Regions from separate parts of the Homo sapiens genome. Here region 1 is linked to region 2. A link means that fine-mapping ties the variant in region 2 to the expression of a gene that starts in the linked region. Tissue or cell type: whole blood. Region 2 holds a variant in brackets; the other region holds the start of a gene. All regions are shown on one strand. Distances are between the middles of the regions.

Region 1 (5,156 bases), 100 kb before region 2:
GTCTGACTGCTCACTTAATCAAAAAGCTGAGGGCAAATAAATGTATCTTTATGACAAAGGTCAAAGACTCAGCCAGGGTGTTGAAGGAAGATGTAAAAATTAGATCTATTTAATCTAGAAAAAAATAGAGAAAAAGAATATACACACAAAGGACTTTTCTAAAATCTTGAATGTTTTTTTCTTATTTGCAATAAGAAGATTGAAATTTCAAACCATCCAAAATATTAAATTCCTTTGACATATTTCCCCTCATATCTAAAAATCAAAAACATTTTCTCACAGTACATTTTATTTTTGAAATTTTATTTTTGGAATAGTTTGGTCACTGAAGATGTAAACTGTCCACACCCGTCTTACTTTGATGAGTCTTCTTGAGTAGCATTTTTTAAACAACTTCATTTATTTTAGATTTTTAAAAATGCCATTTTATTTTTATATCTCCTATAAATGAAAAACGTCAATTTAAAATTCTTGAAGAATGCACATAGCAATCTCTCAGTCAAAAAAGGATAATCTTTTTATTTCATAATGAATAGCCCACCAAGATATTTCTGTATGCATACTAAAGAATAGCTTAATTTTATTTCAGTAATCATTAGCCATGCAAACTACCTTTGTTGTAAGGAATTATAGCAACCAATGTGTGTATAATTTTTCCAAGATTACACATGTATAAAAATTTTATATTCACATTATAATTTCTCCAGTAGTAGATAACATGTTAAGAGTTTTATATGTGAATTTACTTATGTTGGTAAATGAATGTTTTATTTTTTCTAATTTTGTTAAAATATTCTTGATATATTGATTTTCAAATGAAACATTTACTCTTTGGTTCTCCACAAAAATGATGAATCTTTTACTATATAAATTGTTCTCTTTATGGCAACAAGTCTCCAAAGAAAATACAAACAATGAACCACATTAGCTCAATTGATCTCCAAATTAAATTAGTGGCTTCTATTCCCTTAAGATAATGCCAAGTCATGAACTAATTAAAAAAAATTTAAATTAAATACACTATTTACCTACATACAGATATTCCCCTCTCTCCATTACACAGAAGATGACAGATGACTAGAGTAAACATTTTTTATCCTTCCAAGTCCACATTCTTAAGGTTAGAAGAGGAAAAGGTGGTAAATATCCTCAAGTAAGAGACACTTAAATATATAAATTCATTTTGTCTCAATCCATATGACACCTACATCATTAATAACCAACTTACAAATTACAAGTGTTATCAAAAGCTGCACAGAAATTTTAAGAGAAAAATATAATAATCAAATTAGACAAATGATAAGCTATTTGTGCCTTTAAATATTTAGAAATATTTTCGAATGAAGATTAATCAGAAAGATGACTTTCATGCTCTAAGTTGTTATATAATCTTATTGTAGTTTAAACTGATGAATAAGAAAATCCATTTCAAAGATAAAGGCAGATTCCAAGATAAAGGTAGATAAAGTCACTATGAAATTACCTATTTTTTTCCTTATTTTCTTTCTTCTAACTGATTTCCCCTTCTTCCTGTCCCCTTTTCACCAGATAATCACATCTAGCCCCTCTACATTCCCTTAAACTCTCCTGGAGGAATGTCCTTCATTTCCCTAAATAGCACACATTTCAGTGAAAGTGAAGGTAACAGGAATTAGTAGCTGTCATCTTAGAGACATGTTACTTAGTATTCTCTATATTAGTCTGGAGAGCTGTAACACAGACAGGACAAAGAGAAATAACCATAAGAAAAATATTATTGACAACTACAATTGTGTCAAAAAATTGGTGACTATAATGTGCATCTCTTTGCAAAACCTTTCCTTTTCATTAAATTAAAAAATGACTCTATCATCTGTTATAAACTAAAATGTCACATAAAATTTCATACTATAGAAATATCTTCTATAGTTTTGATATGAATATAGAAGGTTAATGAATGAAGCAAACCACAGGCAATGATACATGAAATTGCTACTATATATTATTTTCAAAGCTGAGCCAGATCTATATATAGAACACAAGATATTTCAAAATGAATGCTATTTGTTGTCTTTGTAATTTTACAGACTATTAGAACATTAAAAAAACCCTAGCAGAAGTATCACATGTTCATACCAAGATATTATATATATGTATGCAGATGTACATATATAATCAGATTTTAAATAATAAATACTAAATTATTTAAAAACATTATAGAGCCATACCCCCACACCCCTTTTCTAACAGTAAGAAAATAATCAACCTGCATGAACTGGAATCAGATTCATTTTCTTCTTCACTAGTGCCATCATCCACTTCTGGTCTATCCAGCCAATGTGCACCGCCACAATCTTCTGCTGTAAACTCAAATGCAGGGACTTCAGAGGTGGATGCCATTGGCCAAGAAGGTGAATTCTGAAAATCCAGTTGGCTGGACCTTCGGTAACCAATTGAAGCCAAAGGCAATTGTAGGCTACATGGATCTAAAAACTTTCTCCCACCGTTTGCTCCAGTCTGTCCTCGGTTCCAAAATTCTCCCTGCTGGCTGTCAACTGTAGAATTAGGAGATGATGCTTGATGACCAAACCACCTCCATCTGATTTTCAAAATCTGTTTCACATCAAACTCTTTACGAGAACCAGACATCCTCAGAGAAACCAAGTGATCGTCTAGGCAACGGGCAAAAAGCACTGCACACAGATTTGTGCATCCAACCAAGACAAGAGAAGTATATGCCCTGCTGTACACAACAAAAATATGTAAAGGAAAATAAATCACATTCATATATATATCTACAATTACTTTTATGCCAATATATCAGATTTTAAAGAACAAAGGATAATGAATAAAGATGAAACACGGTGGAACATTCCGTTCAATCAGAGCAAACTCTCATCCACCTATCCTGAAGCAGCTAGACCACTTTCCCGGCTCTCCTTTCCCATACTGACCATTAGGTCTCACAAACACTGACAGCATTCATTAAAGTCCTTTCAAATGCAGAACACCACCCCCTTTTTCTTAAACCACAAATGACAGAGACAGAAAACACTATCCCCGTTGCAGTATCTCAGTCTCTGCTGCTTAGTATATTAACTCTTTCATTGCTGAAACAATAAATGTATTCTATAGCATTTCCCTTTGTACTTAAAAATAATCACTTTAAAACTAAAATGTTTCTATTTCTAAACTAAGTCCCTAAGTGAAATACCACAAAACAAGTTTTTAAAAAAGCATTTGTAAAATTAGATGAGTTATGGTGATTTTCCAGGTGTGCTCTTTGGATGGGGAATGAGGAGGAAAGCGGAGTACAAAGGTGGGGCTCCAGACTATTGCCTTCACCTCTATCTTCTCCCTTCAGAAAACAAATGGATCTAATTAATACAGTAAGATCCTGGGTAAGATTTCACTTGGATAAAGAATAATGAGGAGAATAAAAAGTTTGAAAACTACAAAGGATCAAAATGTAACAAATACTCTTTTTCAAATAAACTGAGGCCAGGATTTCTCTATAAGTAGAAATGGGCCACTGCCAGTTAGTGTAACATCCAAATTTCTATGACATTACTTAGGAAAAGGAAAAGTGCGGCTCAAAAAAGCTACCAGGGACTGGGATAGGACTATTGGGTGTACAAGTGCCCTAATGGTGCCCTCTGTTGTTAGCAAAACAAACAATGGTTTGAACATGGTTACAGTTAAGGCAAATTGATAAAGCAAATACAAATAAACTCAAAAATACTGAGTAGTTATTGTGAACAATGCAATCTACTAGGCATTGTCAGGGACACAGAGATATATATATCTTGGTTCCTAACCCCCAAAATAATTAAATCTAGCTATTGAACCAAATACAAAATATTTGATAAGGTAAAATAAGAAACATTAAAATGCTGCAATATTAAAGTGTGATCTATCAATGCAGAATTTGAGTTTTCAGGGTGCTCAGTATTTACTCCTTTATCAACTAATTCCATACAAAAGGCAATGCCTATCTAAGCTGACCAAAAAACAAAAACAAAAACTACTTTGGAGGCTTACAAAAATATTGTGAGGTGTCTATCTTAATACAAATTATTCAGAGAAACAAGAATGAGAAGCATAAAAAGCCAAGTATGATTTCATGCTAAATAATACGGGAAAAACCATACAAACTGTAAGAAAGAAAGGAGATATCAGGATGGCAATGGAGTGGTATGGGCCAGTTTCATTAGGGAGAAGGCTGCTAAGAATAGTAAAACATTGTTTAGGTAGAATGATAGATTTCTACAGAAAAAGATTCTAATAAAAGCATGAAGTGGGCATATCTACAAGGAAGAAGTGGGAAATAATCAGTTTGATCAGCCAGCCATACCAAATTAATTTTAAGGTGTAGTAAGAGATAAAGTTAGATGAATACGATGAGATAAAATGCCTTGAGCAAGCAGCAAAGACATTATTGAATGGACTGTTGAACAGGACAATGTTTTAGGAAATTAACTTGGCAGTACTGTGCAGGACGCATTAGAGAGTGAAATGACACTTTCCCCTCTCCTCTCACCTTTGTCAGACTCCTTCTGATCAACATCCTTCTAACTTCACTCTAGCTATCCAACTTTATTTCTAACCATTTTCCAACATAGACACACCACTTCATTGGTCAAGGCAGTCTACATTATGGTGTTCCCTCTTTTATAACACTGTTTGCCTCCCAGAGAAACTCTGGTTTAAAAAACACACTTCATCCTTCAAGATTTAGCTCAGGCACTATCATCTTTGTAAACACTTCAGTTACTCTAAGTAGCTGGTTCTCAACAAGGGAAGCATCAACCTGCTCCTAAAGGCTTCTGGAAAATAGGTGGTGGTGGTGGTGGTGGTGGTAGATTTTTAGTTGTTGGAATGACCAGAGTGCTATAGGCATTGAGTGTGCAGGGGCCAGAGACAGCAAACATCTGGCAATGAAAAATGATACCTTTATTTTGCCAATCCTCCTCCACTCATTCCCATGGTAATCATTGCTGACGCCAAGCTTGGTACATATAGCCTTTCACACCTCTCTCCATGTTTATAAATCATGGACAAACTTATATACACATATATAAGAGATTTGCTATTGTTATACAAGAGATCATATTGTATTCATCTTTTAGCATTTTGCTCTTCTCACCTAATTTTATATATACATGGAAATATAAATT
Region 2 (5,156 bases):
AGACTCATCATCAAGCACTCAAGTTCTTTCTTCTCTTTCCTCTTTGCCATCTTCAGATTGTTGGTGTTTGTGTTCATGCTTCCCTTCTCATGGTTTCAAGGAAAGATTATATTAAATGGTGGGGCCATAGCAGCAACAATCATCACATCTTTTTTTTTTTTTTTGAGATGGAGTCTTGCTCTGTCGCCCAGGCTGGAGTACAGTGGCGCGACCTCAGCTCACTGTCACCTCCGCCTCTGGGGTTCAAGCAATTCTCCTGCCTCAGCCTCTCAAGTAGTTGGGATTACAGGCACCCACCACCACTCCTGGCTAATTTTTGTATTTTTAGTAGAGACGGGGTTTCGCCATGTTGGCCAGGCTGGTCTTGAACTCCTGACCTCGTGATCCACCCGCCTTGGCCTCCCAAAGTGCTGGGATTATAGGCATGAGCCACCGCACCCAGCCCAATCATCGTATCTTTACACCTTGATTTTTCTTTTTTAGTTACCTAGGCTGGTCTCGGACTCGTGGGCTCAAACTATACTCCTGCCTCAGCCTCTTGAGTAGCTTGGATTACAGGCATGAGCCACCACACCTATAGCCACAATGTCCTCTATCCAAGTGAAGAAACCTTTACAAGGAGTCTCCTCCATCCCCAGCAGATTTATTCTCATGTCAGAGCATCTAGAGCAAGGTCACAGAGCTACCCTTAAACCACCCAATGGCAGGGGGTATGGGACCATCATGACTAATTACAACCAATCAGGATTAACCTGATTCTCAAGTTGGGGAGGAGAATTGACCATCAGAATAAAAACAGGGCTCTGTAAACACGGAAGAAGAGGAAAATGACTCTTGGGTGCCTCTGTGAATGTTCCTTCTCACATCCAAGGAGATGTGCAAAGACAGAAACAATTTTTTTTTTTTTTGAAATGGAGTCATGCTCCGTCGCCCAGAGCTGGAGTGCAGTGGCATGGTCTTGGCTCACTGCAACCTCCCCGTCCTGGGTTCAAGCTATTCTCCTGCCTCAGCCTCCCAAGTAGCTGGGATTACAGGTGAGCGCCACCATGCCCAGCTAGTTTTTGTATTTTTAGTAGAGACGGGGTTTCACCATGTTGGCCAGGCTGGTCTCAAACTCCTGCCCTTGTGATCTGCCCGGCTTGGCCTCCCAAAGTGCTGGGATTACAGGTGTGAGCCACTGTGCCCAGCCGAGAGAAACATTTAGAACAAAACACAGACTTGTGTTTTTTCCCCCCAGAACAATCTCTTGAGGCATGCGAAGGCTGTTCTGCAAGCATGTGTCATTGTCTAACATTTTGTGATGGGTGGTCACATCTGTGTATGGATACAGTGTTGTCATGGGGCCAATATCTCTATCCAAAGTTACATCTGTTTTCAGATGGGCTGTGAAAATAGTCCATCGATTTTGACTTAGAAAAGTTCTATTAATGTGTGGTATCACAAAGACAGACACAACATTTGTAGTGAAGAGCTGCCCAGTAGTCAGTGCACTTCTCATAATCATACCCCAATGTCCTCTTAGGGAATCACCTCTCACAGGTTGAACAATGTCTTGGTGGGACTATTAATCAAGGGTTCTTGCCCACCAGCCAATGAGTGGCATGTGACTTGAGCTAGACTAATTTGACCCTCTATCTTAGGACTTTGAGTTTTGGATTCAGTGAGGTAAGGGTGGAAAAAATGAAGCTCATTCACTTCAGTAACATAGTTCAGTTATTCCTGCCTCTAAACCCCAAACACATCCCCTATCCTCACCAAACTGCCTTGGTTCTAGTACTAGTCTGTTCTCATGCTGCTAATGAAGACATACCCGAGACTGGGCAATTTATAAAGGAAAGAGGTTTAATGGACTCACAGTTTTCCGTGGCTGGGGGGGGCCTAACAATCATGGCAGAAAGTGAAGGAGGAGCAAAGTCACGTCTTACATGGCGGCAGGCAAGAAAGTGTGTGCAGGGGAAATCCCCTTACTAAAACTATCAGATTCGTGAGACTTATTCACTATCACAAGAACAGCATGGAAAAGACCTGCTCCCATGATTCAATTATCTCCCACTGGGTCCCTCCCATGACATGTAGGAATTATGGGAGCTACAATTCAAGATGAGAGTTGAGTGGGTACACAGCCAAACCACATCAGTTCTGAACCTGGTTCTCCAGGCTTCCCTTTGATTCTGTGGGCTACCAGTGATATTCTTGCAAAAATATCCTTTTCCCGCGTACGTTTCCAGAGTTAGTTTCTGTTGCCTGCTGGATACATTTAACATCTATTTTATTTTATAAAGTCATAGGATGTCAGAGCTGTAAGAAATCTTATAGATCTAGTTCATCTCCCTCATTTTACAGCTGAGGAAGCTGATGCCCCCAGCGGTTGAGGGTTTCACCCAAGATCACATCACAGAGGTTGTCAATGATGGAACTTGGAAAGAAGACAAGGTCTCCTTTCCCTAGGGTAGTGCAGGCTGCTTTTTTCCCCTAAGTCTCTTTTTAGTGTAAAGCACAACTTCTCTTCTTTTTCTCTCTGTGTGTGTTTATCTGCAATATTTAATAGGAGATAGTGACTTTAAAATCCTCATTTCCCCCCCAGACTGACAGTTTGCTTTGTATAGTTTAAAGGCTTGTTTCAGAGATAGACCTCTCAGGGACTTGGTATCTGGCAAAGACAGGCATTAGTTTATGTCCCTATATGGAGCCTTGCTTCTTTCCAGCTATCTGTAAATGTTTATTCTCTTACATGAAATTCATGTTTGGAAAG[A/G]AAGTGGTTTGCTCTAGGGAAACATATGGGCTAGAGTTCTGAAAGTGATTATCTACCATTTCTAAGTCTGCCCCTTGTAAGCTGTGTATATTGGGAAAGGATCTCCCTTCACTCACACTAAAGGATATATAGCTGCTCTACATTTTCAGCTGCTTTAGGGTAGCCATAGCTCATGCAACCACTGTAAAAAATAGCCCAAGGTTGGGATAGGAGTTTGGAAGGGAATTTAGAACAGTATTGACTATGTGCCAGGTACCATATGAAGCACCTAGCATGTATTAATTAATGAATTAATATTCTCCTCACAAGGTTAGGAGGTAAGTACCATTATTATTACCCCTTTTTATAAGTGAAGAATTAAGTCAAAGAGAGGTTAAGAAACTTGTTCAAGGTCACACAGCTTTTAAGTGGCAGGATTGAAATTCAAACCCAGGCAGTCTAGTTTTAAAGTCTGTGCTCTTAACCCACTGCTCTGTTGCATCTTAATCGCTGAATCATGGAGGTAAAAGTGAATCATTTCTGTTGAACTCCCAACCTCAAGTGATTCTCCTGCCTCAGCCTCCCAAAGTGCTGAGATAATAAGTGTGAGCTACCTTGCTTGGCTATGATCTTTTTCTTAGGAAAAAAAGATTGTTCAATACAGACAAATACCTTTTCATAAACACTTCTAGTAGAGAGTTCTGTATTGCGAATCTCTTGATCTCAACAATGCTTGGAAGGTCTACTTATAAACCGTACTCTACCACAAGTTCGCTACACAACAAACATGCTCTCATCTGTACCCATGTAACAAAGTACCTCAAAGAACTCAATTATTTGGTAGTTGTGAGAAGAATTGCACAGAATTAAGCTTTTTGCTTTGGATGCTCATAAAATAGGATCAATAAGCAATGTGTTAATTGATTTTTTAAGAGAAATTCTTTTAAGCCATGTCGAGATCCTCTGTGGTTAAAAAAAAAAAAAAAATTAGTTACAATACAAAAACACCCAAGCAATGATAAGAAAAAGTCATGGACTGAGTCTCTGGAAAGTCCCCTTTCCCCTTGCTGGGTTCAAAACACGTTTTTCTACTTGAAATTTCTTGTCTACAGAGAGAAAGGAAATCATCTCTGTTCCATTTTTATTTTGGCAAACAATGTAGGGCTTCTTTTTAAGCAATTTAGCATTACAAAGTTCCAGTATGTCAAACAAAACAACAGTGCTTAACGATTACATCACAGTGAGATATTTTTCTTGTGTTAGTCTTTATTCAGTGTAGACAATTCAGTAGGAAAAAAAGGATACTTAAAAAATTGTCAGCCGGGCACAGTGGCTCATGCCTGTAATCCCAGCACTTTGAGAGGCTGAGGCGGGTGATCACCTGAGGTCAGGAGTTTGAGACCAGCCTGGCCGACATGGCGAAACCCCATCTCTATTAAAAATACAAAAATCAGCCAAGCGTGGTAGCAGGCGCCTGTAATCCTAGCTACTCAGGAGTCTGAGGCAGGAGGATCATTTGAACCCAGGAAGCGGAGGTTGCAGTGAGCCGAGATTGTGCCACTGTACTCCAGCCTGGGTGACAGAGCAAGACTCCATCTCAAAACAAAACAAAGCAAAACAAAACAAAAATTGTCTACTTTATTTCTACTAACTTTATTCTGACAATTAGACTCATGCTAGAAGAAAAGTTCTCCAGATTTAGTAATTGTTGCTTCTTTACAGAAGAATTAGATCAACGTACGCAAAAAAGACCTCTTTCAATGACATGTTTTAGTGCCGGCAGTTTCATCAGAGACAGAAATCACACAGGATGTCTTCTAGAGACTCTGCTGGTTGGGATGGGATGGATGGGGAAGCAGGCGCAGTAGGGAGGTGTGTTAACCTATTCTCGTATTACTATAAAGATATATCTGAGACTGGGTAATTTATAAAGAAAAGAGGTTTAATTAGCTCATGGTTCTGCAGGCTGTATGGGAAGTACAGTGGCTTCTGCTTCTGGGGAGGCCTCAGGAAACTTACAATCACGACAGAAGGTGAAGGGGAAGTGGGTGTCTTACACGGCAAAAGCAGGAGCAAGAGATGGGGGGCGGTTAAACAACCAGATCTCGGGAGAACTCACTCGCTATCATGAGAACAACACCAAGAGGATGATGCAAAACCATTCATGAGAACTCTGCCCCATGATCCAATCACCTCCCAGCAGGCCTCACCTCCAACACTGGGGATTACAATTCAACATGAGATTTGGGTAGGGACACGGGTACAAACCATATCAGGAGGTGACAGAAGAGAAGATTAGATATTTGAAAAAAAGCTCGGAGTCGTAAGGAAAATGAGTACTTAGACAAAAGGATTTCTTAACAAAGCAAATTTCCTTCTGTGCAGAGGGGACCTTCTTGTTTGGCTAGTCGCTATGAGAGCACAC

What was found. PIP is the estimated chance that this variant, and not a neighbour inherited with it, causes the effect.
Region 1: KLHL5 starts here. The variant in region 2 is fine-mapped to the expression of KLHL5 in whole blood (TOPMed, PIP above 0.99).

What each region holds. Positions count from the first base shown.
Region 1 is chr4:39,060,125-39,065,280 of GRCh38, reverse strand. It overlaps KLHL5 (kelch like family member 5), which reads right to left and starts at 3,049. Exons shown (of 11, transcript NM_015990.5): 1 at 2,246-3,049. The coding sequence starts at 2,628.
Region 2 is chr4:38,956,239-38,961,394 of GRCh38, reverse strand. No RefSeq gene overlaps it. Among named protein-coding and RNA genes, the nearest start is that of TMEM156, 74 kb to the left of the region's middle. The variant A/G (reference allele first, on the strand shown) is at 2,753.